Linked DNA regions of Homo sapiens: region 1 is linked to region 2. Evidence: fine-mapped expression QTL. A gene starts in region 2. The other region holds a variant in brackets. All regions are shown on one strand. Distances are from middle to middle.

The links. PIP is the estimated chance that this variant, and not a neighbour inherited with it, causes the effect. A credible set is the group of variants that fine-mapping cannot tell apart.
Region 1: its variant is the best candidate, but not a certain one, in a credible set for the expression of FAM171B in substantia nigra (GTEx, PIP 0.72).

Annotation. Positions count from the first base shown.
Region 1 is chr2:186,954,857-186,959,250 of GRCh38, reverse strand. No RefSeq gene overlaps it. Among named protein-coding and RNA genes, the nearest start is that of CALCRL-AS1, 46 kb to the left of the region's middle. The variant G/T (reference allele first, on the strand shown) is at 2,068.
Region 2 is chr2:186,691,805-186,696,198 of GRCh38, reverse strand. It overlaps FAM171B (family with sequence similarity 171 member B), which reads right to left and starts at 2,139. Exons shown (of 8, transcript NM_177454.4): 1 at 1,788-2,139. The coding sequence starts at 2,025. RefSeq lists a silencer at 1,976-2,335.

The sequences.
Region 1 (4,394 bases), 260 kb before region 2:
CTCACTGCAACCTCCACCTCGCGGGTTGAGGCAATTCTCTTGCCTCAGCCTCCCGAGTAGCTGGGATTACAGGCACCCACTACCATGCCAGCTAATTTTTGTATCTTTAGTAGAGACGGGGTTTAACCATGTTGGTCAGGCTGGTCTTGAACTCCTGACCTTGTGATCCGCCCACCTCGTCCTCCCAAAGTGCTGAGTTTACAGACATGAGCCACCGTGCCTGGCCTGTTTTGTTTTTTTTAAGACATATTTTCTCTCCGGAGTGCAGTGGTGCCATCATGGCTCACTGCAGCCTTGACCTCCGGGGCTCAAGTGGTCCTACCCCCATCATCTTCTGGAGTAGCTGGGATTACAGGCACATGGCGCACTTGACTACTTTTAAAATTTTTCTGGCCTGGCGCGATGGCTCACACCTGTAATCCCAGCACTTTGGGAGACCGAGGAGGGAGGATCACAAGGTCAGGAGTTCAAGACCAGCCTGGCCAATATGGTGAAACCCTGTCTCTGCTTAAAAAAAAAAAAAAAAAAAAAAAATTAGCCAGGCTTGGTGGTGGGCGCCTGTAGTTCCAGTTACTAGGGAGGCTGAGGCAGGAGAATTGCTTCAACCTGGGAGGCGGAGGTTGCAGTGAGCCGACATCACACCACTGCACTCCAGCCTGGGCAGCATATGCTGACTTCATTTCAAAAAACAAAATTTTTTTTTCTAAGAGACAAGATCTCACTATGTTGCCCAGGCTGGTCTTGAACTCCTGGCCTCAAGTTCTACTGTCTTGGCCTCCAAAGTGGTGGGAGTACAGGCATGAGCCACCATGCCCAGCCAAGAGAAGCTTTTTTTTTTTTTTTGAGACGGAGTCTTGCTCTGTCGCCCAGGCTGGAGTGCAGTGGTGCAATCTTGGCTCACTGCAACCTCTGCCTCCCAGGTTCAAGTGATTCTCCTACCTATGCACCAGAGTAGCTGGGACTACAGGTGCCTGTTACCATGCCCAGCTAACTTTTGTATTTTTAGTAGGTATGGGATTTCACCATATTAGCCAGGCTAATGAGTTTCCAACAGTGGGAAAAGAGATATTACACAAAAGGGACACCAAATGGGAGAGTGAGCTGGCATGGTGGGGAGTCAGTAGGGATGTGAGCCGGGTTGGAGGGCAGTGAGGACAGTTCTTGTTGGCATTTTATGCTTCTGGGGGTGCAGAAGACTATGTATCTATGATCACCCCTCTCTGCATTGCTGCTGCCCCCAATGTCCACTCATTTCATGGGCCCAGTTGGCCACCTTGGATGTACCATGATATCCACTTGGGGTTCCAATCACTTTCCAGTCTGGGAAAAAGGTTCTTCTGATGGGCATTAATATGTCCTATTTAATGCATCCCTTTAATTCCCATAGTGATTTCCATAAGGCCATGTTCCATATGGACACCCCCTTTTTTCTTTTTTCTAGACAGAGTTTTGCTCTTGTTGCCCAGGCTGGAGTGCAATGGTGCGATCTCAGCTCACCACAACCTCTGCCTCCCAGGTTCAAGTGATTCTCCTGCCTCAGCCTCCCAAATAGCTGGGATTACAGGCATGCGCCACCATGCCCGGCTAATTTTGTATTTTTAATAGAGACACGGTTTCTCCATGTCAGGTTGGTCTTGAACTCCCAACATCAGGCGATCCACCCGCCTCAGCCTCCCAAAGTGCTGGGATTACAGGCGTGAGCCACCGCGCCCAGCTGGACACCCCACTAACAATCCAGTTTTCCATTGTTCCTCTTCCTGACCACATGGCCAGCTGTTGGCCAATGCCCATGAGTTGGAATGCACCTGGACTACAGGGCTCTAATTGTTGTTTAATTCTTCCACCACTGCAAGGAAAATAGCATGCAATTCAGCTTACTGAGCTTACTTGTTCTCAACCTCTTCAATTTGTTTTACCATCAGTTGGTTAGAGTGGGGAGGTTTCCAAACAGGATGCTGACCATCTACTTTAGGAATGTTAACGTGAACCAAGGAGATGTGAAGCCTGCAGATAAGAGTGCTGACTGAGGCTGAGCGAGGTGGTTCATGCCTGTAATCCCAGCACTTT[G/T]GGATTCAGGCTGGTGAATCACCTGTGGTCAGGAGTTTAAGACCAGCCTGGCTAACATAGTGAAACCCTGTCTCCACTAAAAATACAAAAATTAGCCTGGCCCATGTGGTGGTGGGCGTCTGTAATCCCAGCTACTTTGGGGGCTGAGGCAGGAGAATCACTTGAACCCAGGAGGCAGAAGTTGCAGTGAGCCAAGAGCGCACCATTGCACTCCAGCCTGGGCAACAAGAGCGAAACTCTGTCTCAAAAAAAAAAAAAAAAAAAGAGTGCTGATTGAACTGACTGAACTTCCAAAATCATATCAGAGTGGACCATAAGGGCCCAATATATATCCAGACATCAATTCTTGAAATTCAGTCATAGACTGCTATTGTGATGGCTCCCATTCAAATACAGCCTTTCTTCAGCCTTAATAGATAAGAGCTCGCACTCTTTCCAGATGCAGAATGTGTCTTCCAAATCCAAACAACCCACCCGACCCTGTGCTTCTCACTGAGTTCCAGTAGTAGATAACAAGAGAGTCTAGTTTAGCTGCCTGTGGGATGTGATAGCTCCTGCCCAGGTTATTCCTGAGAATTCCACCATTGATATGGACTCTGGGATCTTTGCTAGATTGGTCAACCAGCCTGTGTTAGTGATGACTGTTCACTACTGCATTAAGTCAATCCTGGCTTGTTTTTCAGTTTCTGATGTGATTGTGGCATTAGCAATGCAGCGTATTGACACAGCAGTAAACTGGTGAATTCAAATAACCATGTGGCAATACAATGTAGTAAGCTGAGATCCTTCCCACATAAAGACAAACCATGTTTAACTCTTGTACGAGATTGTGATAAAGAAAAAACATTTGCAAGACATTGTATTTTTTGCATGATTGAAACCATATCAGGAACTGCTGGTGCTGTAGTCAGGACTACTTTATTTTTATTTATTTATTTATTTTTTACTTTTTTGAGATGGAGTCTCAAACTGTTGCCCAGGCTGGAGTGCAATGGCCTGATCTCGTCTCACTGCAACCTCCACCTCTTGAGTTCAAGCGATTCTCCTGCCCCAGCCTCCCGAGTAGCTACAGATGTGCACCACCATGCCGAGCTTATTTTTGTGTTGTTTGTTTGTTTGTTTTGAGATGGAGTCTCACTTTGTTGCCCAGGCTGGAGTGCAGTGGCACAATCTTGGCTCTCTGCAATCTCTGCCTCCCAGGTTCAAACAATTTTACTGCCTCAGCCTCCTGAGTAGCTGGAATTACAGGCACATGCCACCATGCCTGGCTAATTTTGTATTTTTAGTAGTGGCAGAGTTTCACCATGTTGGCCAGGCTGGTCTTGAACTCCTGACACCAGGTGATCCGCCCACCTTGGCCTCCCCAAGTGCTGGGATTACAGGCATGAGCCACCACGCCCGGCCAGGACTACTTTATTCAAGCCTGGAAAATCTACTGTAGTCTTGATGAGCCACTTCCCTTTTTCATGGGCCACACAGGACATTTGTACAGAAAATTTGTTAGTATCAGCACTCCAACTTCTAACATGTCAGCAATTAAAGTGGTATTCTCTTTTTGTCTACTAGGATTCATCTGACACTGTGTCAAATTAACAAGCTATGTGGGCTCAGGCAACTCTATAGGTTCCCATTTAGTATGCCCAATTAATGATTGCAGAAGGGCAAACTTACATACCTTTGATTTTATAATACTAGGAATGGGAAGTGCTCCCAGTCAGACATGACTCCATCTAATAACACACTTAGGTAGAGGAGACACAAGCAGTTCACATGAAGTCCGTTCTAATGTTCCAGTTTTCATCCAAACTTTCACCTTCATCTCATCAATCTTTATATCCCCAGATGCTCCCTAGCAAACTGTCACCCAGTTATGACTTCACTAACAGGTTTTGATAACATAATGCATTGGGATCCTGTGGGAAGAACTCTCAGAAGTTTTTCTCCACTCCGTGTTCGTTATCCTCACACATATGCACAAGCCCCAGGTGTGTTGTTGAGGATCAGGCCAAGAGAACCTGACCCCTGCATCAGTGTTTGTCCTGATTAATATGCCTGACCACTAGCCCCAGTGATTCGAGGTCAGATTTCTCATTTTCATCTTTGCCTTTAGTCTTTTCAAATTCCTGCAAACTCAGGTAAATGGGGTGAATCTGTTTAAGGCCCTTCAATGTTGGGACACCAGCAGGGGCAACTGTGAGTCCACTGAATCTCCCATAGTGCTGCGATAAGATTTTTCTTTTGATTCATCAATATTCAGCATTTTCATCCTAGTTCTTTTTTTTTTTTGAGATGGAGTCTTGCTCTGCCACCCAGGCTAGAGTGCAATG
Region 2 (4,394 bases):
GTTTGATCTATCGAAGAGTGTGGTTCCTTTATCTCAATCTAATAGGTAAATAAAACAAAAACTGCTAATTTCCCAGACAATCAGCTTTTTCAGAATATTCCCTCACAAATATCAGAAAGCAAACATTTTAATTTGCATGCTGGATTCAGGTTTCATATTATTGCAGTAGTTCATAACCCTAATCACAACATATATATATATATTACAGTAGTCAAAATTCATTTAATATTCCTGAAAGGTCCATTGAAATAAAAATATACTGCAAACCATAAAACCCACCAACACTCTCCCAGACTTCGGCTTCATAGTGAATTTATGAAATATCTCTATTAATGAGGCCAATCAATCTGATATATCCAATTTCCTTAACTTTAGCGAACAGTATGTCTAACAGCAGCCTCACCCAAACCATATTATCACTTTCAGTTATTAAAAGCTGGGTAGGAAAACCACCATACACTGTATACCTTTCAAGACTTTTAGCCACACTTGAGTGTTATTAATTGGTTTAAGAGGGTGTCAGAAACACATGCTTTCCTGCACACTTTGGTGATTTCATCCTATGCTCAGAGCACTCTGATAAATTAAATCATCCTGGCTGTGTCATGAATCGCAGCTGGCATGCCTGTGTACTGCTTTTTGACGATGAGCAAGCAATACAAAATGTGATGCTGATTCCACTCTTTCAAATCTCATTTTCAGCACTCATATAGTGTTACCAGGCAGGATTTTAAAACAAAAACAAACGTCATAATAAAATTCACTTTGGTTTCACAAAACCTAAGCCCTCGTGCCAGAAAATTGGAGGCTTTTTTTCTTTCCAAATAGCAGACAAGAATCTACAGCCATGAAGCGAAGTGGGTTGCGGGGTAGGGAGATGCAATATACATGGATAATCTAGCTATTTGCTTACCGATGGAGCTTTAATGGGGGGAAAGAGGGAGGAACTGCGGAACTGTTACAGCCACCTATACTACAGCCGTATTTCTACACCTTCACTGAACAGTGTCAAGAATCTGCCTCATTTAAGTTCTACTAACAAGTAAGGAGATTTCTCTCTCTAGGGATAGGCTTTTGCTGTTCTAACACCACTCCAGACTTCACCTTATGTGTCCCCCTCTCCTTTTCCCTTTCCTTCAATTACAAACTCCTGTTTTGTTTTGCTTCATCTTATTGTACTAAAAGAGTTCTTTGCAATAAGATGAACCCTTAAACCCTTCCTGGGGTAAAGAGAAAGAGAAATAAATAATAAAATATATAAAGATTTCTCTCTTCATGGCTAAATTTAAATATAGCAGGCATGGAGAAATGGTGAAAAGGGGTGTGTGGGTGTCCATGGCAAGATTTCTCAGTCTCTAGGAGAGAAAAGGATAGAGAACAAAATGTTTAAGGGATTTAAGAACGGTGTGTGTGTGTGTGTGTGTGTGTGTGTGTGTGTGTGTGTGTGTGTTACAGTCATTCCCAGGGCAGAGGGTAGAATTCAGGAAGAAGGGAGGGAAAAGAAAAAGATCAATCCAGGCAGTCACCCACCCCCAGCCTTCCCGACCCCTCTCCAACCCACCGCAGTGCTCTGAGCTGCTCAGAAAGCTCATTACCCGGAGGGCAGATTCCCGACACCAGATCAAGGGACCAAAGGCTGGGCAGCCAGTCTGGGGAGAGAGATCGGGAGGGATGGTGACAGGAACGAACGAGGATAGGAATGGATAGGGAAGGGGCGAGGAAGCCGGCGAGGCCCTAAGAGATCGCCGGCCGAGACTGAAAGACCGGGCTGGGCAGCCAGGACCTACCTGGAACCGTCAAGGTGGAGGTTGCCCCAGGCACCTCTGTCCTCTCCTCCTCAGCCTCCTCCAGCTGCTTTTGCTGTTGTTGTTGTTGTTGCTGCTGCTGCTGCTGCTGTTGGATGAGGCTGAGGTCGGAGCGGCTGAGTTCCGCTCTGGCGGCCGCGGGGACCAGCCGCGCTTTCAGCAGCACCACGGCCAGGCCGAGAAGCAGGGTGCAGGGGACACGCCGGCAGAGCCTCGCCATGGCCTAGAGCCAGAGGGCCGCGGCGGCATATTGCGGGGCTCCGGGCGGCGGCGGGCGCCAGGGCTGCGGGCTCCTGGCAGCGCCCGCTCGCTCGCTCCCCCTCGCGCAATCTGCCAAGCACTCCCTCACCGGCAGGAGGAAGAGGCCCGGGAGGCGGAGGGGGCGGAGGAGGAGGGAAGGGGAGTTCGCATCCTCGCGCATGTGACGCGCGGGGAGGGGCGAGCCGGGGCCCGCGGTCCCGCGCCCCGCAGCCACCTGGGGCCAGGCTGCTCCGAGAGGACGCGATGCTGGGGCTGCAGCCCGGGTGGAGGGCCCTAGGGGAAACAGAAAGGGGAGGCCTTCTGGGAGCTGGTAGACCCTCACAGCGTCCACTTCCCACTGAGGCACCGGGAAGATTTGCAGAGAGTGGAATAAAATTCCTTCCACCTGAGCCCAAAGTAGCAGAGAAGGTGGTATATTGATTACCCCCATCCAGCACATAGCGTGGGTGGCACCAACGGATCAAAAAGCCAGGATCTCAAACAAATAGGCTTTGCTGCATCACCGCCATCATTGCTTAGCTAGAAGTTAAACTGCAGCGCGCCAGATTTTGACTAAACTTCTTTTCTCTGCCCTAGTGGGAATTTCTTTCCATATCATTAAATATTCTTAATTACATTTTATCTAATTCTAGCCTATCCTTTTCATTTGTTCAAAAAAATCTTACTAAATACTAGTTGCTTACCATGTGCCAGCATTTCTTCAGGTGCTTGGAATAAGTAAAATACAATCCCTGCATTCCAGGAGCTCAACATCTATTAGGGGAGAGGAACACAGGAACAAATTAGAACCCAATGTGGTGGCTACAAACAGAAAAGCAATACAAGTCCAGAGGTCTCAGAATTGGAAGAAAATATCTTGTGTATGTAGGGGCTATGAAACACCAGGAGAGGTAGAATATAAAAAAGAGTAAGACTTCCACACAGGAGAAATCAGGAACGTGGAAGAGTGTGTGTGTGTGTGTGTGTGTGTGTGTGTGTGTGTGTGTGAAGCCCAGATGTGTGTAAGCACAGTGGGCTTGCAAAAGTGTGAGCAATTATTCTAATGGAGGAATGACAGTGTTTTAGATTGAAAAGGAGAGTGGAGACCAGGTCATTAAAAAAATAATAATAACAAGCATTTCTATAGTACTTACTGTGTGCTCAAGTACTTCACATTTGTTAACTTCTGTAATAAACTTAGATGCTGTATACAGAAATTGAAATTCACACAGTAGATGATAATGAAAGAAATTAATCAGGGAAGAAACTTGCTACCAGTTGTGCATTTTAGGAGGATCACTTTGCTCTCAGTATGGCAGATGGATTAAAGGGGGATAAATTGGAAGAGAAGATGCCAGTTTAGAGGTGTTTGCCAAAACCCATAGGAGATGCCAAAGGTCATTGAAACTGAAAAGGAGAAGAAAAGAGTAGGAGACACAGTATATAAGACTACAATAAACAGATACGGTTAATTGGAAGAGGAGGAGATATGCCTAGTGTGACACCTAAATTGACAAATTGAGATCTTAGGTGGCTGCTTATGACCTTATCAACATTAACTGGCCTAGAGTAATGAGCCCTGCCTTGTTCAGTTGTGGTCTCTTTGTATTTGGAGTAACTGTGGGACATCTCATAGTGCAATATAAATGTCACCTGCTGTGACATCACCCCATTTACCATTGTAGTTCATTGTCCTTTTCCACCCTTATCATTCTTACCTTGTCCCTCCCAGTGTTTTCAATATGCTGGAAAACAACAAACTTCTCAGTACTGGAAAAGTATTTTTTGGTTAAGCAAATGAAAATAGTGTATATATAACTAATGGTTTAGATGTTTTGTCCTTTCCAAATCTCATATTGAAATGTGACCTCCAATGTTGGAGGTGGGGCCTAGTGGAAGGTCTTTGGTTCATAGAGGAGAATCCCTCATGAATGGCTTGGTGCCCTCTTCATGGTAATGACTGAATTCTTGCTCTGAGCTCACAAGAGATCTGGTTGTTTAAAAGTGTGGCAACTCCCTTCTCTCTCTCGCTTGCTCCCTCTCCTGTCATGTGACACGCTGTCTCCCTTTCACCATCCACCATGATTGTAAGCTTTCTAAGGTCTCACCAGAGCAGATGCCAGCACCACACTTGCGTTGTACAGCCAGCAGAACTGACCTAAAGTAAACCGCTTTTCTTTATGTCACCCGAAGTTTACTGCAATGCAAATGGACTGACACAATAACCATAAATAAAATAACAGTAGGTATTTTGCATCTATTATCTCATTATATCTTCAGAGCATCTCTACAAATTAGCTCTCATTATCCTATTTAGCAAATGGAAACACTGGAGATCAGAGAGGCTCC